2 separate regions of the Homo sapiens genome follow, and region 1 is linked to region 2. Evidence: fine-mapped expression QTL. A gene starts in region 2. The other region holds a variant in brackets. All regions are shown on one strand. Distances are between the middles of the regions.

Evidence for each region.
Region 1: its variant is fine-mapped to the expression of ZNF880 in caudate (GTEx, PIP above 0.99). The same link has a PIP of 0.9 or more in nucleus accumbens.

The regions. Positions count from the first base shown.
Region 1 is chr19:52,386,879-52,402,097 of GRCh38, reverse strand. It overlaps ZNF528-AS1 (ZNF528 antisense RNA 1), which reads left to right and starts at 4,341. Exons shown (of 7, transcript NR_125345.1): 1 at 4,341-4,636; 2 at 4,831-4,903; 3 at 5,346-5,488; 4 at 5,599-5,733; 5 at 6,348-6,500; 6 at 7,251-7,307; 7 at 12,795-13,259. It overlaps ZNF528 (zinc finger protein 528), which reads right to left and starts at 4,249. Exons shown (of 7, transcript NM_032423.3): 1 at 4,194-4,249; 2 at 3,479-3,731; 3 at 345-413; 4 at 70-151. The coding sequence starts at 84. It also overlaps a transcript of ZNF880 not described here. RefSeq lists an enhancer at 3,738-4,937. The variant T/A (reference allele first, on the strand shown) is at 9,265.
Region 2 is chr19:52,361,326-52,376,544 of GRCh38, reverse strand. ZNF880 (zinc finger protein 880) reads right to left here and starts at 6,622. Exons shown (of 4, transcript NM_001145434.2): 1 at 6,568-6,622; 2 at 3,308-3,434; 3 at 2,118-2,246. The coding sequence starts at 6,579. It overlaps ZNF610 (zinc finger protein 610), which reads right to left. Exons shown (of 6, transcript NM_001161425.2): 6 at 8,767-10,847. The coding sequence ends at 9,778. RefSeq lists enhancers at 6,181-6,320, 6,521-6,630, 6,641-6,940.

The DNA.
Region 1 (15,219 bases), 26 kb before region 2:
AGCAACTCCAATGCCTGGCATTTCAGGAAGAAACAGAGACAGAACAATCCACTGAGAACATTACCTTACCTGAGTAAGGGCCATTCCTGACTTCTTTTCTTTCCTCTTCCAAGTTGCTTCCTTGCATAATATGTCTCTTTGGAAGTGAATCCTGAATGTCAAAAATATGCTGCTTAGGGCTTAGAATCAACATACCTCCTTCCTGTGCCATAGCCACACACAAAGGGAAGACCTCACCCTGAGGTAATCCTCAAACTTTGACTTTCTACATAGGTCTGATTTATCCTAACTGAGCAAGCAGATGTTAATAATTTTGGAAATCAACCATTATGTGGTTAAGGTACCTCGTCTGTTGAGTGGATTCCTTCTGAGATTTTTTTCACTTTATTCTCCCTTTCTTAAAATTTGTGAACCTAAAAAAAAAAAAAAAAAAAAGCAATTCTTCATGTGGTAATAAACTGTGATTCCTAAAATCATACTTTGATCAAGCACTTATTTTAAAAATACAAAACGCTCTCAGAAAAGGAAAGGGGGCTGTGTAGTTGCAGTAGAGGGAGCGGGAAGAACAGAGGCAGGAGATGAGGTCAGAGAGGTCCTGGGGAAGCAGATCAGGCAGGGCTGAGCTCTTCAAATATTTTCTCCTACACATCAAAAGAAATTTTGAAACAATCTATTTCCTCACTCATTTTAAGTAAATATGTCACTTATTCTGTACCTTAGAAATTAAAACACAAATAGTATCTCATATATTTTAAGCACATTCTGACAGGTTTAGTTAATCCCCAGAAAGTAGAAGGTGTCTGTCATCTGAGCTATGCAGGACTGTAGGGAGAACATGTCTGGGGGAGTTCAGGAAGCCTATTTTGGACACGTGGAGGTGGAGATGCCTGTGGATGTCCCAGCAGAGATGTCGAGAACATGACTGGACACAGGATTTTGGAATTCAGGGGAGAGGGGTGGGTGAAGAGGGAAAATGGAGACATGTTGGTGGTGTTTAAAACCATAGATGAGATCAAAAGGAAAAGCTGAGGGTGTGGGCAGACAGAACAGGTTTAAGGACTAAATTGGGTGACATTTCCATATTCAGAGAAGACACTTCAGGAGACAGCAGCAGAGGAAACTGATAAGATACGAAAGTAATGAGAAAAATTTTAAACAGATTTTTAAAAATACAAGCAATGTCTTCAAAGCTGCGAAAAAAAAGAGTGATCAGCTGTGAAACATGCTGCTGACAGAAAAAGACAGGAGGACAGAAAATTCAAAGTCAGATTTAAGCAGGGTAAAGGGCTCATGCCTCTAATCCCAGCATGCTGGGACTTCTTTGTAGGAGGATGGCTAGAAGTCAGGAGTTCAAGACCAGCCTGGGCAATGTAGTGAGACTTTGTCTCAAAAAAAAAAATTTTTTTTTCAATCAGCCACGCAGAGGGACAGGCCCATAGTCCTATCTACTCTGGAGGCTAAGACGGGAGGATTGCTGGAGTCTAGGGGTTTGAGGTTATGGTGAACTATGACTGTGCCACTGCATGCCAGCTTGGGTGACAGAGCAAGACCTTGTCTCTAAAAATTAAATGAATAAATAAATAACTAGATTTAGAAACAGAGAAGTCACTGGTGACTCAGATAAAAAAAGGAGCAGTGGAATGGTTGGTGTCAAAACCTGATTGGATGGGGTCAAGCAAGAAATGGAGGAAAGAGTGAGAGAGCGCCTAAACAAGATTTTGGTATATTGTGCTCTTACATGGAGCACAGAAAAGGCATACTTATTGCAAGTAAAAATGTAGCTAATACTTTGTTTTTTCTTCTGAGGATGAAATAGTGGAAAAAATAAAGGCGTGTGTGTGTGTGTGTGTGTGTGTGTGTGTGTGTGTGTTTTAATGGGCAACAACTCCATCTGGGTATGCTGACCAAAATAATTCCCTTGAAGTAAAATCTGATGACACTGTGGAGGAGGGATGCCGTGGCATCAGGAGAGAGTGAATGGGGCTGGCCTGTGGCACACAGTCTCAGCATCAGCAGCAGCCAGGAGCAGGGACAGACAATTCCCAGTCACTACTAAGAACACAGTCCTAGAGACAGGTGAGTGGGCCTGTTGGAAAATTCTTCCCCTTACTGTTTGAGACAGGAAAAAACCACACTGTTTTTACTACTCTCACACCCAAAGGAGAATCCCTCACCTTTAGTGATCAAAATGTGTCTGTGGTTGTTCCTACACTGACCAGTTAAACTGAGTAAAATTACAGAACACCCAGGTGCTGTCTGACGAAGAACTGCTTGTTGGTGACAAGTAATTCCCATATTACTTTGGTGACCAGAGATGAGGCATTCTGTGTTGAGCGCTCTTTATTGTGTTCACTGTGAACACAAAAACACACTGGTTTTTCCTAACTTATACACTCACACCCTAGTCCATCCCAAGAAAAGAGAAGAGTGCCTTATAAATAGTGTTCCAATTCTCATCTTCATGTGTGGTTTTTTGTTTTTTGTTTTTTGAGATGGAGTCTTGCTCTGTCACCTAACCTGGAGTGCAGTGACACGATCTCGGCTCACTGCAACCTCTGCCTCCCAGGATTAAGCGATTCTCCTGCCTCAGCCTCCAGAGTAGCTGGGATTACAGGCGCAGGCCATCAGGCCCAGCTAATTTTTGTATTTTTACTAGAGATGGGTTTCACATGTTGGCCAGGCTGGTCTCAACTCCTGACCTCAAGTGATCCGCTCACCTCAGCTTCCCAAAGTACTGGGATTACACGTGTGAGCCACAGCTCCTAGCCTCATGTGTTCTAAACAAATTTTATATTATAGAAAAATTAATATGTCACAATTCAATCATAATTTCCAATCAACTCACCACTCATCTGTAACCAGGGTCCCCCTCTTTCCTCACTACTGTTTCCCTGCCTCATTCTGTACATATCTCTCATTCTCATCTTTTTTCCTAGCTCTTTTTTTCTCTATTTTCCCCTAGGATTCTGTTCATTTTGAGTCCCTCCTCTTCTCTTTGTCCCATTCTTCCCTCTATTCCTTCTCTCCCACCTGTTCTGATCCATTTTTACAACTTGTTTCACCTCTTATTCCTCTTTCTGCCCAATCTTTCATTGTCCCTAATCTCCATATATTTCTGCCTCTTTCCTCCCACATCTCAGCTCCCCTTGGGGTCTCCCTGTTAAATTCCATCTTCGATATTACACACCCCTGTCCCCACTCTCTGGCACCCTTAGATCCCAGGCCTCCCCCTGCTGTGGTTCTCCCTGTTCTCCTTGTGACCAGCTGCCCCCTCTGGCTGTCCCAGCACCACGCTGCTCTGTCTGACCTGGCTCCAAATCCCTCCTCCTCTCCCCCCTCTGTCTGAGAAGCCTTCCCTATCTTGTTGAATTTCGTCTTTCTACAGACCCAGGTTTGTCTATATTTTTACAGTTACTTTTCTCCCCTGCTATTTTCTCGGCACCTTCTTTCACTGTGCCTCTGCAAACCCCTCACTCACCTTCTACTTTGCCTTCTGTTAATGGGTCTCTCATTCTTCATTTCTCTTTCAAAATTTCTCTATTTCCTCTGCCTCGTTCCCATCTCTTTTTCTCCACACATTCACAGGGAGGGGATTGGAATAAGATGCCCACTTCCGGAAGAGCTCATTTTCTGTGGGCTGGAAACTGGCTCGAGAGAACACTGGATGTCAGGAGACTGAAGTCACCCCCCACACTCGGGGTCAGGAGAACCGGTGGCTGGAAAAGGGAGGCCTGGGGAACAGAGGGTCCAGATTAAGGAGCAAAAAGGCAGGAGTGGGTCAGGAGAGGGGTGGAGTCTGCAGAAACCAGGTCTGGGCAGAGGACGAGGCCTCTCGTGCCCTGTTGGGGCGCTGAGCTCTAGGGGCAAAGAAGGGCGAGGCTAGGGGAACGGAGAGTGAGGATTTTACGTGGTGCGGGGCGTGTGTAGGGGTTACTAAAGGATTTGAAGCAGGTAAACCCCACGATAGGAGGTGTCTACGTGGGTAAATGACAAAAAGACCGGGCACACGACCAGCCTCCAAGCGATTTTAACACGCAGAAAGCGACTCCCAGACTCTCAAAGGATGTCTGAATTTACTCGGGGTGGAGGGAGCGGTGCCGGGATTTCAAGGTCTGCATGCCCCTCAGCTCCCGGGTATAGAAGCAGAGAAGAACTGGCTAGCCTAGACTTAACATAGACAAAGGGAAACTCACGCACTGCTGCGAAAACAGTTTCTCCCTGCAATCGGCTTCCGGGTCTACCGGAAACTGCGCTCTAGGCGTTCGCCCCCCGCGGTCCGCTTCCGGGTTTGCACGAAATTGCGCGCGCATCCTAGAGGCCGGACTGGCTGGGACCAGGGCGGGCCGGGACAAAGCCTGGGCCGGGCCTGCGCTTCCGTTCGCTTGACTGGCTGCGCTTGTTTTCAGGGTTTTGGTCTGAAAACGGATCTTACCTGCGCAGAGCAAAATCGGTTGTAGATTATATCCACGAAAATTCCTTCTATTAAAATGAATTTCAAGTCCCACCTACCCTGGAAGCAGAAAGAGAGAGAAGAGAGAGAGTAAAGAGAAAGAGAAAAGAAAGAGAAGTTGAAAAAGAGAAAGAAAACCAAGAAAGAAAGAGAAAAAAACCGAAAATAAATGGACAAGAAAGAAAAGTAAGGAGGGAAGGGAAGGGAGGAAGGGAAGGGAAGCTTTAGGAATTGAATTAACACACTTTGGAATTGTCTGTGAAGGGGATGATGCAAGCTAAAATGTGAAATGCAAAACCCTGCCAGGGTAGAATGTTCTATTTCATGCCAGTGCCCATAGAAGATAAATACTTTTCATTTATCTTCCCCATTCACTCTAGACGGTGAAGGTCAACCCTGTGCTCAATTCCAGAGACTTTCCTAGGGACATCGTGTTGGGCATGGAGGACTAAGGCCAGTGTGAAGATAAGTCACCGATTCTTTAAAAAAAAAAAGCCAGTAACTTATAAAAATAGCCATAAACGACGTAGTTTTTTGTTGTTGTTGTTGTTTTGAGACAGCGTCTCCCTCTGTCCCCCAGGCGGGAGTACAGTGGCAGGCACTCAGCTCACTGTAACCTCCGCCTCCTGGGTTCAAGTGATTCTCTTGCCCCAGCCTCCAGAGTAGCCACCACGCCCGGTCCAACTTAGTTTTTTAATACTTTTTAAAATTTTAAGACAGGGTCTCTGCCACCGAGGCTGAAATGCAGTGGCGCAATCATAGCTCACTGCAACCTTGACTTCCTGGGGTCCTGGGCAGGTGACCCCCTGTCTCAGCCTGCCGAGTAGCTGTGAGTAAAGGCCTGTGCCTCTCCACTGTGCTAATTTTCTACTGTTTGTTGCTTTGTTTTTAATAGAGATGTAGTCTGGTTTTGTTGCCCAGGCTGGTCTCCAGCTTCTAGCCTCAAGCAGTCTTCCCATCTGCTCCTACCAAAGTGCTCGGATTATAGGCATGAATCACCTTGCATGGGAGATAAGGACCCCCACATCAAGCCCTCAGGTTATTTTTGAAACACAAATACATAAGGCCCACAAGCAGGCCCATTGGCTGCAGACAGTGGGGTCACCTGAAGAACTTTTCTTTGATCTGAGTACCAACTTCTCACCTAGGTCACTGGGATCCTGGACTACGGCACTGCTCCAGGCAGGCCTGGTTATCCTGCTTGAGGCAGCAATCCTCTTGAGCCTAGTGAAATGCAACTGGCTGTACCTCAATGATGTTGCCCTGAGATTCTGCCAGTCGAGGTATTACTTCAATCTCCTGAGACCAGCCTCTACCTCCAGATCCAGGGAGGTCAGTGCACATGTAAATGGACTAGCTTTATTAAAGGGGATATCTGGGCCAGGCGTGGTGGCTCACGCCTGTAATCCCAATACTTTGGGAGGCCGAGGAGGGCAGATCACCTGAGGTCGGGAATTAGAGACCAGCCTGGTTAACATGGTGAAACGAAGTCTCTACTAAAAATACAAAAAAAAAAAAAAAAAAAATTAGCCAGGCATGGTGGCACACGCCTGTAGTCCCAGCTACTCGAGAGGCTGAGACACAAGAATTGCTTGAATCTGGGAGGTGGAGGTGCAGTAAGCCAAGATTGCGCCACTGCACTCCAGCCTGGGAGACAGAGCGAGACTCCGTCTCAAAAAATATAAAAATAAAAGGGATATCTGGATTGGCGGAGAGACTGCAGGACAGCATTCAAGTGGGGTTGAATTGGCCCAGTTGCATCTGACTTCTCACTTGTAGTTCCCAAGAATGAATATAGAATGTGCTGGAAAAGCAACATCCTGAGAGGAAGGGACCGGTGAGAAAAGGACAGGATGTGTTCCAGATCCCCAGAACAGGATCCCCTTTGTTGCTTTAGGCCAACGTGCCATGCATCCCTGGAGCATGAAACCCAGGATGGGCCGCCTTCCAGCCTCCCACAGCTGTGATGCAAGTTGAACACATACAGAGAGACTGCATCTGCACTGGGTGGTTTTCCTGAGCCTTGGGGAGCAGAATGCATGAATCCCAGGTATCTGCCGATCTGTATGTAACAAATTCACTTCATGTAACTTACTGTGTGTCCGTGAGATTATCTCTCACTCAACTCAGACACATTGGCAACCAGTGTGCAGTGAACCTGCTTCACAAGCAAGGATGTGGAGAAACTATTTTCGTACATTTTGTGGGAATCTGAAATACTGCGGTCAGTATGGAAAGCAGTATCATGGGAAACTTCCTCAACTCAAGATCACCTACCAATCCTTACAGAATCAGAATCATCATACAAACTGGTGAAAGCATAGTTTCCCCTAGAGGTTGGGATGAGGGCAAGAATGTCCCCTCTTATCACTACTATTCCACACAATATGAAAGGTTCCAGCCAGTGAAATAAAGGAAAAAGAAATAAAAGTGACAGGCTGGGTGTGGTGTCTGAGGCCTGTAATCACAGTGCTTTGGGAGGCTGAGGAAGGAGGGTGGCCTGAGGACAGGACAAAAAAAATAGTGTACCAACAGAAAATATGTTGGTTGTGCAGGCTAATACCTTTCCCAAAGGAAGGTAGCTACATCCCTATGACCTGTGTTACTGGATATATCAAAAGGGAGTTTGCAAATGTGGTCTAGATAAGGATCTTTAGATAGACATCCTGAATTATATGGTCAAAGTGATAGAATCACAAGGTTCAATATCAGAAGGGTGCAGGTGGATGCGAAGGGACAGAGACAGTGGTGATGTGTTGAAAATAGAGGGATAAAGAGATTTTTTTTCTCACCTTTAAAGATGGAGGAAGTGGACCATGAGTCAAAGGATGTAAGTGGCCTCTGGAACCTACAAAGGGTAAGGAAACAAATTCTCCCCTGGAGATTAATGAAGAATCACAGAACTATGGACCCATATTAGATATGTGACTTACAGAATTATAAAAGAATAAATTTTTCTTGTTTTAAGCCAATCACTGTGTATAGCAATAGGAAACTGATGAAATGATTTTATGTAGAAAATTCCAAAAAAATCTACAAAAATCTCTAGAACAAGAAAAATGTAAAGGTAGCAAAGTATAAGGTCAACCTACAAAAATATCGTATATTTCATCAGCCAGGCATGGTGGCTCGTGCCTGTAATCCCAGCACTTTGGGAGGCCAAGGCAGGCAGATCACTCAAGCTCAGGAGTTTGAGACCAGGCTGGGTAACATGGTGAAACCCCATCTCTACAAAACACAAAAATTTAACAGGCCATGGTGGCACATGCCTGCAGTGCCAGCTACTGGGGAAGCTGAGGTGGGAGGATGACTTAAGCCTGCAGGACACAGGTTGCAGTAGCTGAGATTGCTCCACTGCACTCCAGCCAGGATGACAGAGTAAGGCCCTGTCTCAAAATAATAATAATAATAATCTTGTATATTTCTATACACTAGCAATTTGCACATGAAACCTGATATTAAAAATAAAATACTATGTATGATTGCTCCATTAAGAAAAAGGTCAAAGAGGCCGGGTGCAGTGGCTTACACCTGTAATCCCAGCACTTTGGGAGGCCAAGGCAGGTGGACTACGAGGTCAGGAGATCGAGACTATCCTGGCTAACACGGTGAAACCCCATCTCTACTAAGAAAATACAAAAAAATTAGCCAGGTGTGGTGGCGGGTGCCTGTAGTCCCAGCTACTGGGGAGGCCGAGGCAGGAGAATGGCGTGAACTCAGGAGGCGGAGCTTGCAGTGAGCTGAGATCGCGCCACTGCACTCCAGCCTGGGCGACAGAGCAAGACTCCGTCTCAAAAAAAAAAAAAAAAAAAGGGGGGGGGCAAAGAAATACATGTGAAACAAAACATTCATAGAACTGTTATGTTACAACTACCAAATGCTGATAAAAGAAATCAAAGACAGCAAATAGAGACATATACCATATACATTTATTGGAAGACTCCATGTAAAGCAATATGAATTATACAAATCTGACACATAGGGTTAATACCTTTCCTAATTAAGGCATTCTGCAGATACTAACAAGGTTAGCAGTTATGTAGAAAGACAAAAAACCCAAACACCTAAAATAGCTAAAACATCTGACCAACAACAACAAAAGATTGGTATCACTTCATGTGATTTCAAGTCTTCTAATACAATAAAAGTATTTTTTCCCTTTCTCATATTTACAGTAAACCTAGTTTGTATTTGTCATTGTCTCGAAGCAAGAATCTGTCCCAGAAAAAAAAAAAAGAAAGAAAGAAAATTTCCATTCAAAACTAACAGGATTTAGGCCAGGCATGGTGGCTCACACCTGTAATCCCAGCCCTTTGGGAGGCTGAGGCGGGCAGATCAAATGAGGACAGCAGTTCGAGACCAGCCTGGCCAACTTGGTGAAACCCTCTCTCTACTAAAAATACAGAAATTAGCCAAGGATGGTGGCAGGCACCAGTAATCCCAGCTACTCAGGAGGCTGAGGCAGGAGACTAGCTTAAACCTGGGAGGCAGAGGTTGCAGTGAGCCGAGATTGCGCCACTGTACTCCAGCCTGGGCAACAGAGTGAGACTCTGTCTCAGAAAAGAAAAAAAAAAAAAAAACTAACAGGATTTATACTATTGGTTTTCCACAGAATTCTCCCAGTTGCAGAGTTTCCCAAACACTATTTATTAGTGTGGCTTTGCAGGGTGCAGTGGCTCACACCTGTAATCCCACCAGTTTGGGAGGCAGAGGAAGGAGGATGACTTGAGCCCAGGAGTTCCAGGCTGCAGTGAGCTATGATTGCCACTGCACTCCAACCTGGCTAACAGAGCAAGACCCTGTCTCTCAAAAAA[T/A]ATATATATATATACAGCTTCCACTCTGCCCATCTGAGCTCTTACCTGTGTTCACACCTTTGATCCATTCCCTCCCATCTGGATTTTTTTGCTATTTTCCCTTCACTCTCCAGAGTCCAGGGCTCTCTCCTTTGCTCCCACATAGAGATAATACTCAGGTCAGGAAGACAGATTCCTGTTTATAAAAAAAGAGAACCAAGGTGTACTGTGGCACCTTTAAAACTCAAGCCCTGGGCTGGGTGCAGTGGCCCAGGCCTGTAATCCCAGCACTTTGGGATGCCGAGGCAGGCAGATCACTTGAGGTCAGGAGTTCGAGACCAGCCTGGCCAACGTGGCAATATGCTGTCTCTACTAAAAATATAAAAATTAGCCAGGTTTGGTGGTGGACGCCTGTAATCCCAGCTCCCTGGGAGTCTGAGGCAGGAGAATCACTTGAACCCGGGAGGTGGCGGTTGCAATGAGCTGAGATAGCACCACTGCACTCTAGCCTGGGTGACAGAGCGAGGCTCCGTCAAAGTGAAAGAAAAGAAAGAGAGAGAGAAAGGGAGGAAGGAAAGAGAGAAAGAGAAAGAAAGTCAGTCCATGGTTTCCAAAACATACTTCTGTTTCCATTAATTTATTAGGAATGCTCTTCCATCTGGCTGTTGATCTGTGTCCTGTGTAACATCCTTTATAACAAATGGTACACCTCAGTAAATTGTTTCTCCAAGTTGTGTAAATCACTCTAGCAATAGCAAATTCTGGGGGCAGTTTTGTGCAACTGAGCCCTCAGCCTCCTGTGAGATCTAATGCTAACTCCCTATAAATGGTGTCAAATTGAGTTCAATTAGAGAACACCCAGTTTTTATCTGATGAAAAATAGCTTGTTGGTGGGAAGTAATCCCCACACATTTTGATGACCGGAGATGAGGCATTCTGTGTTGAGCATTCACTATTGTGTTGATTGTGAGTAGAAAAAACACTTTGGTTTTTCCTCCTATCTTATACACTCACACACCCTACCCCATCCCAGAAGTGAAGATAGTGACCCATACCTGAATGAGTCAAGTCACTGCCTGCCGTCTGGCAGAATAAGGACAGCAAATGGAAGCTAACCTCTGATACCAAGAATTAGGAAATGCACATGCCTTATAGACAGTTTTCCAATTCTCATCTTCATCTGTATATTTTAAACAAATGTGATGTTTATTATAGAGAAATTAATCATAATATCCAATCAATTCATCATTCATCTGGATTGAGTGTCCCCCTCTTTCCTCATTACTGTGTGTTTCTCTACCTACCTCTCATTCTCACCTTCTTTTCCTAGCTTTTTTTTTCTCTTTATTTTTCCCCTAGGATTCTCCTCATTTCAAGCCCTTCTTCCTTCTCCTGCTCTTCCCTCTATTCCTTCTCTTCCACTTGTTCTGCTCCTTTCTCACTTCTTTCACCTCTTATTCTTCTTTCTGCCCAATATTTGTCTCCAATTTTCATATAGTTCTGCCTCTTTCTTCCCCCCGTCTCTGCTGCCCCCTAGCTTCCCCTGTTAAATCCCCTCTTCCCTGCTATATCCACCTGTCCCCTCTCTGGCATCCCCAGATCCCAGTTCTCCCCAGGCTGTGGTTCTCCCTGTGCTCTCCTTATCACTGGCTGCCCCTCTTGCTCTCCCAGCACCATGCTGCTCTGTCTGCCCTGGCTCCAAATCCCTCCTTCTCTCCCCAACTCTCCATCTGAGGAGCCTCCCCTTTTCTGCCCCTCTCCCTATCTTGCTGAACTTTATCTCTCTAGAAACCCAGTTTTTCTCTAAATTTCTCTAGTTGCTTTTCTCCCCCTGCTCCTTTCTCAGCATCTTCATGCACTGTCTCTGCAAATCCCTCATCCACCATCTACTTTGCCATCTGTTTTGTTTTGTTTTTTGTTTTTTGAGATGGAGTTTTGCTCGTCGCCCAGGCTGGAGTGCAATGGTGCGATCTTGGCTCACCGCAACCTCCGCCTCCCGGGTAAAAGCGATTCTCCTGCCTCAGTCTCCAGAGTAGCTGGGATTACAGGCATTCGCCACCATGCCTGGCTAATTTTGTATTTTTTAGAGACAGGGTTTCTCCATGTTGGTCAGGCTGGTCTCAAAACTCCTGACCTCAGGTGATCTGCCCGCCTCAGCCTCCCAAAGTGCTGGAATTACAGGCGTGAGCCATCGCACCCAGCTGCCGTCTGTTTATGGGTCTCCTTCATTCTTCTTTCCCATTTCACCATTTTTCTATTTCCTCTCCTCCACACATTCATAGGGAGGGGACTGCAGTCAGATCCCCACCTCAAGAGCCCATTTCCTGTGGGATGGAATTTGGGACAAGAGAAACCTTAACGTCCTGAGATAGAAGTCACGTCCCCACACTCGATATCAGGAGAAGGGGAGGCCTGGGGAGCAGAAGGGCCCCCGATCAAGGAGGAAAAAGGCAGGAGAAAGTCAGGAGAGGGGCAGGGTCTGCAGGATCCCAGGACCAGGAAGAGTTCACGGCCTCCCTGGGACTGGGGCTGCGTCGCTGCGCTCCAGGAGCTGACGAGGGAGCGGAGCAGATGGGAAGCTCCCAGGGCGGGAATCAACCTTGCGGTGAGGACTTTAAAAAAGGTGCGGGCCAGTGCAGGGGACACTGAAGGATTTGAGGCAGGAAAACTCCGCGATAAGAGCTGTCTATATGGCCCTGTGGCAGAAGCACGGGGGACACGACCCCATGGAACTGTGTCCATTAAACCTCTTTGTCTTCATAAATTACCCAGTCTCGGGTATTTCTTTATTAGCAGCGTGAGAACAGACTAATACAGTAAATTGGTAATGGTATAGAGTGGGGTGCTGCTATAAGGATACCTCAAAATGTGGAAGCAAATTTTGAACTGGGTAACAGGCAAAGGCTGGAACAGTTTGGAGGGCTCAAAAGAAGACAGGAAGACGTGGGAAAGTTTGGAGCTTCCTAGAAAATGGTTGTTGAATGGTTCTGACCAAAAAGTCCAGGCTGAAGGTGGTCTCAGATGGAGATGAGGAACTTTATTGGAACTGGAGCAGAGGTGAGCTGCAGGGGCGGAGCCCTCATGGAGAACCTCTGCTAGAGCAGTGCAGAAGTAAAATGTGGGGTTGGAGCCCCCACACAGACTACTCACTACTCGCCTAGTGCAGCCGTGAGAAAAGGGCCACCCTCCTATAGACCCCAGAATGGTAGATTCACCGACAGCTTGCACCATGTGCCTGGAAAAGTAGCAGACACAACACCAGCCTGTGAAAGCAGCCAGGAGAGGAGCTGTACCCTGCAAAGTCACAGGGGCAGACATGGGTTCCCTGCAAGACCACTGGAACCAACCTCTTGCATAAGTGTGACCTGGATGTGAGACACGGAGTCAAAAGAGATCATTTTGGAGCTTTGACTGCCCTGCTGGATTTCAGACTGGCATGGGGCCTGTGACCTGTTTTGGCCAATTTCTCCCATTTGCAACGGGCGTTATTTATCCAATACCTGTGCCTCCATTGTACCTAGGAAATAACTAACTTGCTTTTTATTTTACAGGCTCATAAACAGAAGAGACTTGCTTGTCTCAGATGAAACTTTGGACTGTGGACTTTTGAGTTAATGCTGAAATAAGACTTTGGGGGACTGTTGGGGAGGCATGATTGGTTTTGAAATGTGAGGACATGAGATTTGGGAGGGACCAGGGGCAAAATGATATGGTTTGGCTGTGTCCCCACCAAATCTCATCTTGAATTGCAGCTCCCATGATCCCCACATGTGGGAGGGACCCGGGGGGAGGTAACTGAATCATGGGGGTGGGATTTTCCCATGCTGTTCTCATGATAGTGAATAAATCTCATGAGATCTTATGGTTTTATAAAGGGCAGTTTCCCTGCACGGGCTCTCTCTTGCCCGCCACCACGTAAGACATGTGTTTGCTCCTCCTTCACCTTCTGCCATGATTGTGAGGTCTCTCTAGCCGTGTGAAACTGTGAGTCCATTAAACTTCTTTTTCTTTATAAATTACCTAGTCTTGTGTATGTCTGTATTAGCAGCATGAGAACAGACTAATACAACATCCCAGGCTGCTCACCTATCCCTGTTCTCCAATTTGGACCAGCTGGGGAAGTCCATCCTGCTTTCCCCAGAAAGCCTCATGTAAATGTTTATGTAGTAAACATTTGCAGACCATATCAGTGTATGGCATCATCATTCTCAATATATAATACAAACTTTAGGTGGACTTCAAACAAATTCCAGTACAGCAGTCAAAAGTTCAAATTATCGGTCAAGCATGGTGGCTCACACCTGTAATCTCAGTACTTTGGGAGGCTGAGGCGGGTGGATCACGAGGTCAAGAGATCAAGACCATCCCGGCCAACATGGTGAAACCCTGTCTCTATTAAAAATACAAAAATTAGCTGGGCGTGGTGGTGCACGCTTGTAGTCCCAGGTACTCATGAGGCTGAGGCAGCCGTTTGAACCCGGGAGGCAGAGGTTGCCATGAGCCAAGATCGCGCCACTGCACTCCAGCCTGGTGACAGAGACTCTGCCTAAAAAAAAAAAAAAAAAAAAAAAAGTTCAAATTGCCAAAAATGTTGTAAGGGGAAGTATATGAAGTTTCTAGTTAATCTACAAAAGCAAAAAAAACTCCCATTCTATGTGACCATTCTTAAAATTTATGGGCCAGGCGCAGTGGCTCACACCTGTAATCCCCGCACTTTGGGAGTCCGAGGCGGGTGGATCACAAGGTCAGGAGTTTGAGACCAGCCTAGCCAATATGGTGAAACCTTGTCTCTACTAAAAATACAAAAATTAGCCGGGCGTGGTGGTGCGCGCCTGTAGTCACAGTTATTTGGGAGGCTGAAGCAGAAGAATTGCTTCAACCTGGGAGGTGGAGGTTGCAGTGAGCCGAGATCGTGCCACTGCACTCCAGACTCTGTCTCAAAAAAAAAAAAAAAAAGAAAATTTATGAACATTAATATTTTCCACTTACGTCACTGAGCACTACTAGGAAAAAAAAAAAAGACATGCACTACTAGGAAAAAAAAGACATTGTGGTACAGTATTTTCACTCTTATTAACATACTTTCTTTCATTTAATAGTATTTGTCGCCAGGCACAGTGGCTCACGCCTGTAATCCTAGCACTTTGGGAGGCCGAGGCAGGCAGATTGCCTGAGTTCAGGAGTTCGAGAACAGCCTGGGCAACATGGTGAAACCCCGTCTCTAATAAAATACAAAAAATTAGCTGGGCGTGGCAGCGTGCGCCTGTAGTCCCAGCTATTAGGGAAGCTGAAGCAGGAGAATTGCTTGAACCCGGGAGGCAGAGGTTGCAGTGAGCCGAGATTGTGCCACTGCACTCCAGCCTGGGTGACAGAGCAAGACACTGTCTCAAAAAAAAAAAAAAGTATTTGTCATATATTTGTATTTTTGCTTCATAAAAATTAAGGTGCATGCCATGAGTCTTCCTTGGCACACAATAGGCACGTAGAAATATAATGAACAGTGAATGTTTCATGGACTTTTGAGGGTGTAGGAGGCTGAAGTGGCACAGAAAGAATAACTCAAGTATTAAGTATGATTAGTGTAAATTATACTTACCCAAGGATATGCACCACAAGTGTGTGCATATGTTGATTTCACACACACAAAATTGTTCTGGATGCGTCAACCTTAATGGTGCATTTTTTAAAAATGCCTATTTTACACTAAAGTTAGAGTGATTAGACACATATCACTGCTACATAACTCAGTGTGAAGACAAAGAAAACCAAATTGCAGAGTATTTACTATTAATGTTGCATTACTGTGCAGTATATTCTCCTAAGGGGGACTAAAACAATTGGTAGAAATGATGTGATTCATTCATACTTAGGAAAATTTTATTAATTAAAACATGAGAACTATGTACATTCTAAATCAAACAGTTGGAAATTATGCCAACAGTTAAATGTAAATGCTACTCAAGAACATGGCATACT
Region 2 (15,219 bases):
GAGCAAGACGCTGTCTCAAAAAAAAAAAAAAAAAAGGGGGGGGGGGGGCGGTGCTAAGGACATGAATAGACAATTGTCAAAAGAAAATACAGAAATGGCCAACAAACATATGAAGAAAGACTCCACATCACTAATTATCAGAGAAATGCAAATTAAAACTATAATATAATACCCTCTTACTCCTGCAAGAATGGCCATAATCAAAAAATCAAAACATACTACATGTTGGTGTGGATGTGGTGAAAGGGACCACTTTACACTGCTGGTGGGAATGGAAACTAGTACAACCACTATGGAGAACAGCGGGGAGATTCCTTAAAGGACTAAAAGTAGATCTACCATTTGATCCAGCAAAACCACTCCTGGGTATCTACCCAGAGGAAAAGAAGTCATTATACAAAAGAGACACTTCCACACACGTTTATAGCAGCACAATTCACAAATGCAAAAATAGAGAACCAGCTCAAATGCCCATCAATCAACAAATGGATAAAGAAAATGTGGCATACTAATATGGAATGCTATTCAGCCATAAAATGGAACGAAATAATGGCATTTGCAGCAACCTGGATAGAATTGAAGGCCATTATTCTAAATGAACTAACTCACTTAGGCAGGCCAGGTGGGAAGAATAGTTGAGGCCAGGAGTTCAAGACAAGCCTGGGCAACCTAGTGAGACCTCATCTCCACAGAACATTTTTTAAAAATTAGCAAGATGCAATGGCACATGCCTACAGTCCCAGTGACTTGGCAGGCAGAGCAAGATGATCATATGAGCCCAAAGCCTGAGGGAAAACCAAACATTGTATGTTCTCACTCATAAGTGGGAGTTAAACTGGGAGGATGCAAAGGCGATACAATGGACTTTGGGGTCTTGGGGGAAAAGGTGGGAGGGGGGTGAGGGATAAAAGACTATATATTGAATGTAGCGTACAATGCTCGGGTGATGGGTGCACCAAAATCTCAGAAACCACCACTAAAGAACTTATCTACGTAACCAAATGCCACTTGTTCCCCAAAACCCTATTGAAATAATTATAATAATAACATTATGCCCGGGAGCAGTGGCTCATGTTTGTAATCCCAGCACTTTGGGAGGCCAAGGTGGGTGGATCACTTGAGGCCAGGAGTTCGAGACCAGCTTGGTCAACATGGTGAAACCCCGTTTCCACTAAAAATACAAAAAAAAAATTAGCCAGGCTTGGTGGTGCACGCCTGTAATCCCAGCTACTTGGGAGCCTGAAGCATGAGAATGGCTTGAAATTGAGAGGCAGAGGTTGCAGTAAGCCAGGATCGTGCCACTGCCCTCCAGCCTGGGCGACAGAGCAAGACTCTGTCTCAAAAAAATAAATTAATAAAAATAAATTAAAAATTAAAAAAAAAAAACCAATACTAGTTTGGGTAACACAGTGAGACTCCATCTCAAAAACAAACAAGCAAACAAACAAAACGCCAAAAACAAAGAACACAGCAGCAGTAAGAGGGGGCAAAGAAAAATTTCCCTTCTAGGCCAGGCATGGTGGGTCATGCCTGCAATCCAAGCACGTTGGCAGGCCAGGTGGGAAGAATAGTTGAGGCCAGGAGTTCAAGACAAGCCTGTGCAACCTAGTGAGACCTCATCTCCACAAAAGATTTTTTAAAAATTAGCAAGATGCAATGGCACATGCCTACAGTCCCAGTGACTTGGCAGGCAGAGGTGAGATGATCATATGAGCCCAAAGACTGAGGGTACACGGGCTACGATCACACCACCACTACACTCCAGCCTGGGCAACAGAGCAAGAACTTGTCTCAACAAAACAAGACAAAACAAACTTCAATCAGAACTCACAGGATTTAAACTTTTATTTTCCCAAAGAATTCTCTCACTTGCAGAGAGCTCCCAAACAGAAACTCAAAGTGTGGTTTTGCAGGGTACAGTGGCTCATGCTTGTAATCCCACCACTTTCGGAAGCAGAGGAAGGAGGATCACTTGAGACCAGGAGTTTGAGGCTATGAGTTAAGCCACGATTGCCACTGATGATTGCCACTCTACGACAGCCTGGGTGACAGAGCAAGACCCTGTTTAAAAAAAAAAAAAATTATGGGGCCTCCACTCTGGCCATCCAAGCTCTTACCTGCGTTCACACCTTTGATGCACTCCCTGCCACCTGGATTGTTTGCTATTTTCACTTCACTCTGCAGATTCCGGGGATCTCTCCTTTGCTCCAACATGGAGATAACACTCAGGTCAGGAAGACAGATTCCTATTTAAAAAAAGAAAGAATATCAAGACTATCCTGGCTAACACGGTGAAACCCCATCTCTACTAAAAAATACAAAAAAAAAAAAAATTAGCGGGGCGTGGTGGCGGGTGCCTGTAGTCCCAGATACTCAGCGTGAACCTGGGAGGCGAAGCTTGCAGTGAGCCAAGATCGCGCCACTGCACTCCAGCCTGGGCGACAGAGCGAGACTCTGTCTCAAAAAAATAATAATAATAAAAAGAAAGAATAAATGTGTACTGTGGCATCTCCAAAATGCAAGCCCCATGTCTAGGTAGGAGAGAGGATATTATAAATGAATCAAGAATAGTATTTCGCCAGGCACGGTGGCTCACGCCTATAATCTCAGCACTTTGGGAGGCCGAGGTGGGCGGATCACGAGGTCAGGAGTTCAAGACTAGCCTGACCAATATGGTGAAACCCCATCTCCACTAAAAATACAAAAATTAGCCAGGCGTGGTGGCACGTGCCTGTAGTCCCAGCTACTCGGGAGGCTGAGGCAGAATTGCTTGAAAACGGGAGGCGGAGGTTGCATTGAGCTGAGATCCTGCCACTGCACTCCAGCCTGGCAACACAGGGAGACTCTGTCTCAAAAAAAAAAAAAAAAAAAAAAATTACAGTATTTCACATGAATTCATCCACTGCCTCCTTCTGAATGCTGAGGGAACATTGTAACATGCAGACATCAAGCTCTCTTACAAGAACTAATAAATAATAAGCACAGGGGTGGATAACACAGAACTGTATATCTTAAGTCTGTCATAAGGTTTGACGCATACTTAAGCCCTGGTACCACTCAATGATGAATCTCAAAGGGGCCAGAATTCTGAAGAAAGCAATTATTTTAAGTCCAGAAAGTATTATGGAGCTTATTGTTTCTGAAAAATACAGCATTATAAAGCATTATGGAGGTTTTCATTTCTGAGTCAACAGGGTTTCAATCTCAGTCAAGCAATACAGTGACTCCTAAGATGCTAAGAGGCACACGACAAAATGCAAAAATACACCAGGGCAGATCTTGACTTCTGAAGGGACATTATCCTCACCCAGAAAGACCAGGTTCCTGTAGTTCTCCACCATCACTTCCCTGTATAAAGTCCTCTGAGCAGGGTCCAGACATTTCCACTCCTCCTGAGGGAATTCTATGGCCACGTCCCTGAATGCCAAGTGTCCCTAAAATGAAAAACACATTTCACCAACAGGATATCACACAAAATGAGGAGACAGTTGTAAGGACTGACTTGATTGAAGTGGATGTTCTGACAAATCCACGTTAAGGTATTTTTTTAGCTAGTTATATGTTTCTAATTGTGTTTTAATATACTTCTCCATTAGAAGTTATGACATTCTTTTTTTTTTTTTTTTTTTTTTTTTGAGACGGAGTCTCGCTCTGTCGCCCAAGCTGGAGTGCAGTGGCGCGATCCTGGCTCACTGCAACCTCCGCCTCCCAGGTTCACGCCATTCTCCTGCCTCAGCCTCCCGAGTAGCTGGGACTACAGGCGCCCGCCACCACGCCCAGCTAATTTTTTTTTTTTTTTGTATTGTTAGTAGAGATGCGGTTTCACCATGTTACACAGGATGGTCTCGATCTCCTGACTTCGTGATCCGCCCACCTCGGCCTCCCAAAGTGCTGGGATTACAGGCATGAGCCACTGCATGCCCAACCTGATATTCTTTAAATTAGTATAGATTTCTAGGCCGGGCGCGGTGGCTCACACCTGTAATCCCAGCACTTTGGGAGGCCAAGGCGGGTGGATCATGAGGTCACGAGATCGAGACCATCCTGGCTAACATGGTGAAGCCCTGTCTCTACTAAAAATACAAAAAAATTAGCCAGGCGTAGTGGCGGGCGCCTGTAGTCCCAGTTACTCGTGAGGCTGAGGCAGGAGAATGGCGTGAACCTGGGAGGCGGAGCTTGCAGTGAGCCGAGATGGTGCCACTGCACTCCAGCCTGGGCAACTGAGCGAGACTCTGTCTCCAAAAAAAAAAAAAATTAGTAGAGATTTCTAATTTTGTGGACAACATAAGAAATACAAAAAATTAACCCACAGTTATTTCTATAGAAGCGTCAGATACAATATATATAATTTTTTTTTAGATGGAGTCTCACTTTATTGCCCAGGCTGGAGTGCAGTGGCACAATCTTGGCTCACTGCAACATCCGCCTCCCAGGTTCAAGTGATTCTTCTGCCTCAGCCTCCCGAGTAGCTGGGACTACAGGCACCCACCACTGTGCCCAGCTAATTTTTCTATTTTTAGTAGAGACAGGTTTTCACTATGTTGGTCAGGCTGGTCTTGAACTCCTGACCTCAGCAATCCTCCCGCCTCGGCCTCCCAAAGTGCTGGGATTACAGGCGTAAGCTACCTCACCCAGCCAGGATGAAGCTTTTGAACACCTCCCATGTGACAGGCACTTTCTAAATGTTGTACATGTACTAACGGCTATAACAACAAAAGCCCATAAAAGAACAATCTGTTCCCATCCTATTGAAGAGACAACTCTTTCTCAGACATTCTAAGAAACTTGCCCCAGGTGTGAAGGCTAAAAATGGCAGAGTAAGCGCCAGATCCCAGGAGTCTGGGCATTAGAATCAAACTTTAAGAATTAGGCCAGGCGTGGTGGCTCATGCCTGCAATCCCAGCACTTTGGGAGGCCAAGGCAGGTGGATCATTTGAGGTCAGGAGTTGAAGACCAGCCTAGCAAACATGGTGAAACCCCATCTCTACCGAAAATAAAAAAATTAGCCAGGCGTACTGGTGGGCACCTGTAATCCCAGCTACTTGGGAGGCCGAGGCAGGACAATCACTTGAACCCGGGAGGCAGAGTTTGCAGTGACCTGAGATGGTGCCACTGCACTCCAGCCTGGGTGACAAAGCGAGACTCCAGCCTGGGTGACAAAGAGAGACTCCATCTCAGAAAAAGAAAAAAAAAAACATCAAACAATAACAGATCAGCATCAAAAGTAAATTGACAGACAATGACCTAACTGAGTATAGTTAAAATAAGTTCCGGGATTAAAATCAAGAAACTGTCGCACATGTATCCCCATAACAGGTTACTATCCTTACAGCCATAGACTCACTATCATAACAGTGTAGAACAATTTTAAGGTCATGAAAATATATAAGATGTAATTTCAACTGTTAAAAGATATAAGACGTATATAAACTGATGATGCGCCTTTGATAAAAACAATAGACTTGCTCATCTGTGCACTCATCCACACACATCACATGTACACACTTATTCATATACATATATACATTCACACACATATACTCTAGTAAACATATATGTGACAACTGAAAGAGTTGTCTGTCAATAACCTCTTTTTTAGATATTTGTCTTTGTTCGTTTTTTAATGTGTCCAGGTTGCAGTGCAGTGGCTTATTCATGGCACACTACAGCCTTGAATTCCTGGCCTCAAATGACACCCTCTCCGAGTAACTCGAATGACAAGCGTGCACCACTGTGCCTGGCTGTCGTTGTTTTTGCAAATGTGCATTTCAGCATGTTTGCAACAATAAAAATGTATAAACTGTGCTCAATTCAGTTTATAAACATTATTTCAAACTATTTCAAAAAGTCAGACCATGTAAAAACATAGAAACGAGAATTCCAATCTCTATTAAATACCCGTACTGAAACATATGTTTCAAAAATTGAGATGGGGGTCTCACTATGTTGTCCAGAGTGGTCTCAAACTCCTGTGCTCAAGGAATTCTCCAGCCTGGGCCTCCGGAGAAGATGGAATTCCAGCCCCGGCCCATAAATATTAGGTTGGTGCAAAAGTGATCGCGGTTTGCCATTACTTTTGCACTAACCTAATTTTGTCCACTAAATATTTATTTAGGTGTTAGCAAAAGCCCAATGGAGGCTGAAACATCACAATCAGCAGTAAACATCAGATCGATTTCCTCTCATTTAAGGCACAGAAAAGGGGGCAGGCCTGTGAAAAGAGGGCGAGGCTTGGGGGACCGGAAAGACGTGGATCCATCTCGCGGGTGAGAACTTTACGCAGCGCGGGCCGTGTCTAGGGGTCACTGAAGGATTTGAAGCAGGCAAACTCCGCGACAGGAGCTGTCTACATGGCCCTGTGGTGAAAGACCGGGGACAGGACCAGCCTCCGAGCGATTTTAACACTCAGGGAAGCGACCGCCAGACTCTCATTAGAACGTCTGAGTTTAGTCGGGGTGGAGGGAGCGATGCGGGGATTTCAAGGTCTGTGTGACCCCTGAGATGCCGGGTACAGAAGCGCGAGGGGACTCAGCATCCCAGATTTAATCTAAACAAAGGGAAACTCACACGCCGCAGCATGACCGTCACTCCACGTAATCTGCTTCCGGGTCTCCAGGAAACTGCGCGCGCAGCTGAGAGGCGAGGCGAGGCCAGGCCCGGGTGGGATTGGGCGGAGCCTGCGCTTCCCTCCGCCTCGCTCCCAGCTCGTCTCGTTTTGGAGGCTAGACCTGCCGTGGAGACTGGAAGAACTCAGCTATCTGGAAATAGATTGTGTCCCGGCAGAGGGAAAGTTTGTTGATGATTAGATCCAGGAAAATTCCTGCTATTAAAATTAATTTTAAATCGGCTGTAGGGGCGCTCGCATGTGGTCCTAGCTACCCGGATGCTGAGGTGGGAGGATCGCTTGAGCCCATGAGGTGGAGGCTGCAGTGAGCCGAGGTCGTGCGCTGCACTCCCGCCTGGGCATGAGAGAGAAACCTTGCGCCTAATAAATACATAATCATAAATAACAAATTGGAAATAAATAATTAAAATAAATAAATATAAATGAATAATAAACACTAGTTTCCGGAATTTTAAAGTCCTTGAATTGTTTATGAAGGGGATGCAAATTAAAATATGAAATGCAAAACCCTGCCAGGGCGGAATGTGCAATTTCCTTTTTTTTTTTTTTTTTTTTTTGGAGACAGAGTTTCGTTCTTTTGCCCAGGCTGGAGTGAAGTGGCGCGATCTCGGCTCACTGCAACCTCCGCCGCCTGGGTTCAAGCGATTCTCCTGCCTCAGTCTCCCGAGTAGCTGGGATTACAGGCGCCCACCACCACACCGGGCTACTTTTTTGTACTTTTAATAGAGACAGGGTTTCTCCATGTTGGCCAGGCTGGTCTTGAACTCCTGACCTCGTGATCCGCCTGCCTTGGCCTCCCAAAATGTTGGGATTACAGGCGTGAGCCACCGCACCCGGCCAAGTTTTTTTTTTTTTTTCATATTTATATTAATCCTAGTGTATACCTGCCATTGTCTTATGGACATACTCAGGTCACAACTTTTTTTTTTTTTTTTTTTTTTTTTTTGAGATGGTCTCCCTCTGTCTTTCAGGCTGAAGTGCAGACAGCTCACTGACTGCAGCCTCGACCTCCTGGCATCAAGTGATCCTCCCATCTCAGCCTCCCAAGTAGCTGGGACTACAGGCACACGCCACAATGCCCAGTCCCATGTCACAAAATTTTGTCTCCAAACAGCACTCATTTATTTGTCCCCTAAAGTTTTCACCAGAGCAAAACAGGGAAGAAATGTATTAAACATAGAATTTGGAGGCAATGTAGGAAAAAAATGTAAAAATATATATACATACAAAAAATATAAAAATATACATGCTAGGTGTGAATTGTAACTAAGTTTCCAGTATGGGTAGTGGGTATCCCCGCCCCAGCCCTACCCTTTAGCAATCATGACACCCCAAGCCAGTCACCTATCCCAGTTCTCTGAAGCCACTTTTGGACCAGCTGGAAAAGTATACCCTGCTTTCCCCCACAGAGCCTCATTATATAATAAACACTCTCAAACCATATCAGTGTATGGGATCATCATTCTCAAGATCCAAGCCAAACCTTAGGGGGACTTCAAACAAGTTCCAGAAGAGTGGTCAAAAATTCAAATTACCAAAAGAGTTGTGAGGGTGACTATATGAAGTTTCTAGTTAATGTACCAAAACAAAATTCCCTTTCTGTGTGTGACTTAAAAAGAAGATGGGTGAACATTAATATTTTCAAATGATGTCACTGAACACTAGAAGTACAAAAAGAAATTGTGTTACAGTATTATTATTATTTTTTTTTTTTTGAGACGGAGCCTTGCTCTGTCACCAGGCTGGAGTGCAGTGGGGTGATCTCAGCTCACTGCAACCTCTGCCTCTTGGGTTCAAGCGATTCTCCTGCCTCAGCCTCCCAAGTAGCTGGGATTACAGGTGCACACCACCAGGCCCAGCTAATTTTTTTTTTTTGTATTTTTAGTAGAGACAAGGTTTCACCATGTTGACCAGGATGGCCTCAATCTCCTGACCTCGTGATCCACCCAATGCAGCCTCCCAAAGTGCTGAGATTACAGGCGTGAGCCACCAGGCCCGGCCATGTTACAGTATTTTTGCCCTCAACCCATACTTTATTTCCTAATATTTGTCATATTACTATATATTTTTGCTGCATGAAAATGAAGGTGCACACCATAGTTCTTATTTGGCACACAAGAAAGAGGCATGTAGAAACACAATACAGGGCATACTCTTTAACACTCACACACATTTGAGGGTGTACAAGGCTGAAATTGTACTATTAAAGTGATTTTGACTTTACCCACATAAACATCCTACACCAGAGTACAGAGAAACTAACTCAAGTACTAAGTGTAATTACTCAACATCATACTTACTTAAGTATATTGCACCCAGAAGCGTATGTTGTTTTATGTCTCACACACATACACACACACACACTTTTCTGGCTGCTTCAACCTTAAAATCATAATGGGTTATTATTCTCTACTATAAAGTATCCTCCTGAGGTAAGATTAAACAACGCTGGTAGAAAGGATGTAATTCATTCACACTAAGAAAAATTTAAACTAGGCCGGGCGCTGTGGCTCACACCTATAATCCCAGCACTTTGGGAGGCCAAGGCCAGTGGATCACTTGAGGTCAGGAGTTTGAAACCGGCCTGGCCAACGGAGGGAAACCCCGTCTCGACTAAAAATACAAAAATTAGCCGGGCAGTAGTGGCACATGCCTGTAATCCCAGCTACTCAGGAGGCTGAGGCAGGAGAATTGCTTGAATCCGGGAGACGGAGGTTGCAGTGAGCCAAGATCATGCCACTGCACTCCAGCCTGGGTAATACAGCGAGACTTCGTCTCAAAAAAAAAAGAAAAAACTAAAAAAAAACTTTAAACTTTATTACTTAAAACATGAGAAGTATGTACATTCTAAATCAAAGAGTTACAAATTACGGTGCCAGCAGTTAAATGTGAATCCTACTCAAGAATATGCTATACTGGTAGTTTTCATTAAATGCTCTATTCTGATATAACTGTTCTCTCTTTATAGATTATTTATATATGTTATTAACTTTACATTTGTAGGGTTTCCTTTCAGTGTGGATCAAGAGATGAGTGATGAGGCTTCAATGCAAACTAAATTCTTTGCCACATTTATGATATTTGTAAGGTTTTTCTCCTGAGTCCTCCAATGTTGTGCTAGGTGTGAATTCTAACTAAAGATTTTGCCACATTCATTCCATCTGTAAGGTACGCAGTGAATTCTCTCCAGCATGAATTTTCCGATGTCGTGAAAGGTGTGGATTTTGATTGAAGACCTTGCCACATGCATTACACTTGTAAGGTCTCTCTCCAGTATGAATTCTCTGATGGTTGGTTAGGTATAATTTGCGCCCAAAGACTTTGTCACATTCATTACATTTGTAAGGTTTCTCTCCAGTATGGATTAGAAGATGGGCCATAAGGCCCGGACGCTTGTGAAATGCTCTTCCACATTCGTTACATTTGTAGGGCTTCTCTGTACTATGAATTATTTGATGCCGTGCAAGGTATGAAAGCAGACTAAAGACCTTGCCACATTCATTACATTTGTAAGGTTTTTCCGCCGTGTGACTTCTCTGATGATTGGTTAGAGAAAATTTGTGCCTGAAGTTCTTGCCACACTCATTACATTTGTAAGGTTTCTCTCCAGTATGGATTACAAGATGGGTAGTAAGTCCCGAACACTCTCTAAAAGCTTTGCCACATTCGTTACATTTGTGAGGCTTCTCTCCAGTATGAATTCTTTGATGTCGTGCAAGGTTTGAATTGCGATTAAACACCTTGTCACATTCACTACATTTGTAAGGCTTCTGTCCAGTATGAATTCTCCAATGTTCTACAAGGTGTGAATTGCGACTGAAGACCTTGCCACATTCAGTACATTTGTAAGGTTTCTCTGCAGTATGGATTACTTGATGGTTAGTAAGGCTTGCACGGACTCTAAAAACTTCACCATCTTCACTACATTCATATTCATAAGATTTTCCTCTAATGTATGCTTTCTCTTCTTGTGGGAGTAATGGGAAATCAATAAGATCATTTCTATATTTATTAAAAATGTGTGTTGTGAAACTAGAAGAAATTTTTTGAAGTGGTGAAACTGAGGAACGATGGTTTGTAAACTTTTCAACTTGATTACTTCTGTAAATTTTCCTTCCGGCTTGAAACAGCTGCAATTCAGACAGATGTGCCTCAAGGGTTAATCCAAGTTGATTTTTAATAGGCTTGTTTTCTGCATTGCTTCCCAATACACAGCTCCTCCCTAGAAAAGAAGAAAGAGTAGAACATGAACCCATGATTCTGGCATGTTTACCGTCTGGTGGAGGGACCAGAATCAGCCTCACCCAACTCAGACACTGGAAGAAGTATCGGCATACTTTGCATGTCACATTGTGAGAGCTGAAAACACAAGGGGGTGACGTGATGCATTGGAGCAGTGGGGAATCTGCAGGACTCGGGAGGATTATGAGTGACTTTGAGAAAGATTAAGGGCAGAAAAATAGAACAGAAACTGAAAGCTTCTCAGAAAAAGCAGGGATGAGCCTCTTAGAGAAAATAAGACATTTAAGAGCAGTTGTATAGACATTAGTAATAGTATAATATACGCATAAAGCTAGGAGAGACACAATCCCAGGAGTGAGGTGTTCCCACACCCTTTACAACAGGCTAATTGGGAAAGGTCTCCCTGTCACACCTGTCACAATTCTTTTTTTTTTTTTTTTGAGACGGAGTCTCTCTCTGTTGCCCCAGGCTGGAGTGCAGTGGCACCACCTCAGCTCACTGCAACCTCCGCAAGCAATTCCCCTGCATCAGCCTCCCAAGTAGCTGGAACTACAGGCGCACGCCACCACGTTCGTCTAATTTTTTTGTATTTTTAGTAGAGACGGGGTTTCACCACGTTGGCCAGACTGGTCTCAAACTCCCAACCTCAGGCAATCTGCCTGCCTTGGTCTCCCAAAGTGTTGAGATTACAGGCGTGAGCCACCGTGCCCAGCCTATCATTAAACATCTTAAAGCAAACTTGCAGGCTAGAAGGCAGTAAGATGATGATATGTTGAAAGTGCTTAAAGAAAAAAAAATACGGCTGGGTGCAGTGGCTCATACCTGTAATCCTACCACTTTGGGAGGCTGAGGTGGATTGATGACCTGAGGTCAGAAGTTCAAGACCAGCCTGGCCAACATGGTGAAACCTCATCTCTGCTAAAAACACAAAAATTAGCTGGCTGTGCTGGCACATGCCTGTAATCCCAGCTACTTGGAAGGCTGAGGCAGGAGAATCACTTGAACCTCACATGGGGGAAGGCGGGGCATGGAGGTTGCAGTGAGCCAAGATCGCGCCACAGCACTCTAGCCTGGGCGACAGAGCGAGACTCCTTCTCAAACAAACAAACAAAAAACCAAGAATACTATATTCAGCAAAACTTGCTTGCAAAAATAAAGGAGAAATTTACACGTTCCTGAATAAAGAAGAGCTGAGGAAGGTAATTAGTACCTTGGAACTGTCTGACAAGAAATGTTAAAGGGAATCCTTCAAAAGGAAATAAAAGGACCCCAGACAGTACTTCTAACCCAAATGAAAATATAAAGTTCTCCATTAAAGGTCAATAAATGATCAAATATGGAAACATAGTATCCTGAGAGTGACACTGTATGAGAAAAAAATTAAAAAAGAAAACAAAAAAATCATGCATTATTGTACTTTTCATTTGTAATTTGGCTTTTCTTTCCTAGCATTTCAAAGGCAAAATTATTTAAAAAGCACTAAAATGTGTTAATGGGAATATTACATATATAGAAGGAACTTCTAGCACAATAACAAATAGCACAGCTATAATGTAATGCTTTCGGTACCTAATCAAGGTTAAGCTGTTGACATTTTAAAATAATGTTTTATTGTTACAATGTTTTATGTAACTTCAATCTTAACCACAAGAGGAAAATCTACAAACATACACCAGAGGAGATGAGAAGGGGATCAAAGCATGTCACAATTAAAAAACCAACAAAATACAAAAGCAGGCAGTAAGGGAAAAATGAAGGACAAAAAAATCTACAAGATGTTACAAAATCTACAGCTAATATGTGACAAGATGGCACTATTAAGGCCTTCTCTATGAGTATGTGAAATACAAATGATTTCCCATTGGAATCAGAACAAAACAGGATCCAACTAAATCCTATCCACGACAGACTCCCTTTAACTCTAAAGACATAAATTGGCTGAAACTGAAAGGATGGAAAAGGATATTCCATGCAAATAGTAACCAGCAGAGCACAGAGGTGTCTATATTAAAATCAAAGAGAACAGACGTTTACTCAATAACCAGTATAAGAAAGAAAAGTTATTATACAATGATGAAGGGTTCAATTCACCAAGAAGATATAACAACTATAAATATATAGGCACCAAATATCACAGCCCCTAAGTATAGGATGGAAACATTCACAAAATTCAAAGGAGAAACAGATAGCTCCACGATATAGTAGTAGACTTCAATACTTCATTTTCAAAAATGGATAGAACAAGGTGACCAGGCAGGGTGGCTCACACCTGTAATCCCAGCACTTTGGGAGGCTGAGGCAGGAGGATCACTTGAGGCCAGGAGTTTGATACCAGCCTGGCCAACATGGCGAAACCCCCATCTCTACTAAAACTACAAAAATTAGCTGGATGCAGTGGTGCATTCTAGTAATCCTAGCTACTCAGGTGGCTGAGGCATAAGAATCGCTTGAACCTGGGAGGTGGAGGTTGCAGTGAGCTGAGATCACACCATTGCCCTCCAGCCTGGGTAGGCAACAGGGTGAGACTATGTCTCAAAAAAAAAAAAAAAAGGGGATAGAACCAAAGAGAAGGGGGTTCTGTCTCTCGGCTTTGGAGCCCCCCTCACTCTGTCTCTGTACAGGGGAGCTTCTTCTTTCTTTCTTCCCCCTTCTTTCTTGCCTATTAAACTCCCTGCTCCTTAAAACTAAAAAATAAAAATAAATAAATAAAAATCAAAGAGAAGAAGAAGAAAACAGGACTCAAACATCACTATAGCCTCATTAGATATGACAGACGTATACACAACACATCACCTAAAAACAGCAGAATACAAATTTTTCGGAAGTGCCCATGGAACAGTTTCCAGGATGGACTTCATGTTATGACACAAAACAATCTTTTAAACATTTAGAAGTCTACAAAGTATTGATTCCCATTATAATGTAATAAAACAAAATTAACAGAAAGAAATGTAAAACCCACAGATATGTCCAAATGAAACAACACATCTAAAAAACCAATAGGTCAAAAAAGAAACCACAAACTGATTTTTAAAATATCTTGATAGAAAAGGAAAGGAAAACAGAACACACCAGAACTTATAAAATGCAACAAAAATGTGTGCTTACATTAAAAATAAACAAATGGCCAGGCATGATGCCTCACATCTATAATCCCGGCACTTGGGAGTTTGAGGCATGAGGAGTACTTCAAGCCAGGAGTTGCAGACCAGCACAGGCAACAATACAAGACACCATCTCTACAAAATTTATGTATTTATTTATTTTTGAGATGGAGTCTCGCTCTGTCACCAGGCTGGAGTGCAGTGGTGCGATCTCGGCTCACTGCAACCTCCGCCTCCCAGGTTCAACTGATTCTCCTGCCTCAGCCGCCCCAGTGGCTGGGACTACAGGCGTGTGCCACCATGCCCAGCTAACTTTCGTATTTTTAGTAGAGACGGGGTTTTACCATGTTGGTCAGACTGGTCTTGAACTCCTGACCTCAGGTGATCCACCCGCCTCGGCCTCCCGAAGTGCTGGGATTACAGGCGTAATCCCATAGTGTGATTCCCACAGGCGTGAGCCATAGTGCTGGCTTATTTATTTTTTAGTTAGCAAGGCACAGTGCCATGCACCTGTAGTCCTAGCTACTCAGGAGGCTGAGATAAGAGAATCACCTTAGCCTCGGAGTTTGTGGTTGAATTGAGCTATGATTGCACTACTGCACTCCAATGTGGGAGACAGAGTGAGACCTCATCACTAAAATAAATAAATAAAGTTACATGTAAACAATCTAACTTTATACTTCAATGAAGTATAAAAAAAACCAAACTAAATAGAAAGGTAGCAGAAAGAAAAAATTAAGATTAGAAAACAGAAGAGAGAAGCACTAAAGTCATGAAACTGCAAGCTCATACTTCGAATGGTAAGAAAATTGACAGTTGGGCATAGTGTTTCACGCCTGTAATCCTAGCACTTTGGGAGGGCAAGGCGGGAGGATCACTTGAGCTCAGGAGTTCGAGATCAGCCTGAGCAACATAATGAGACCTCTGTCTCTTTTGAAAAAAAAAATTTTTAAATTAAAATAAATTTTAAAAAGATTGACAAACCCTTAGCTAGATAAACAACAAAACAAAAATGAAGCGTAAGCCTCAAATAAGTAAACTTAGAAATGGAATAGAGGACATTACAAATAAAACTGAATTGTAGAAAATGAGATTGTGGCCGGGCGCAGTGGCTCACGCCTGTAATCCCAGCAATTTGGGAGGCCGAGGCGGGTGGATCTCCTGAGGTCAGGAGTTCAAGACCAGCTTGGCCATGGTGAAACCCCATCTCTACTAAAAATACAAAAAATTAGCCAGGCCTGGTGGTGC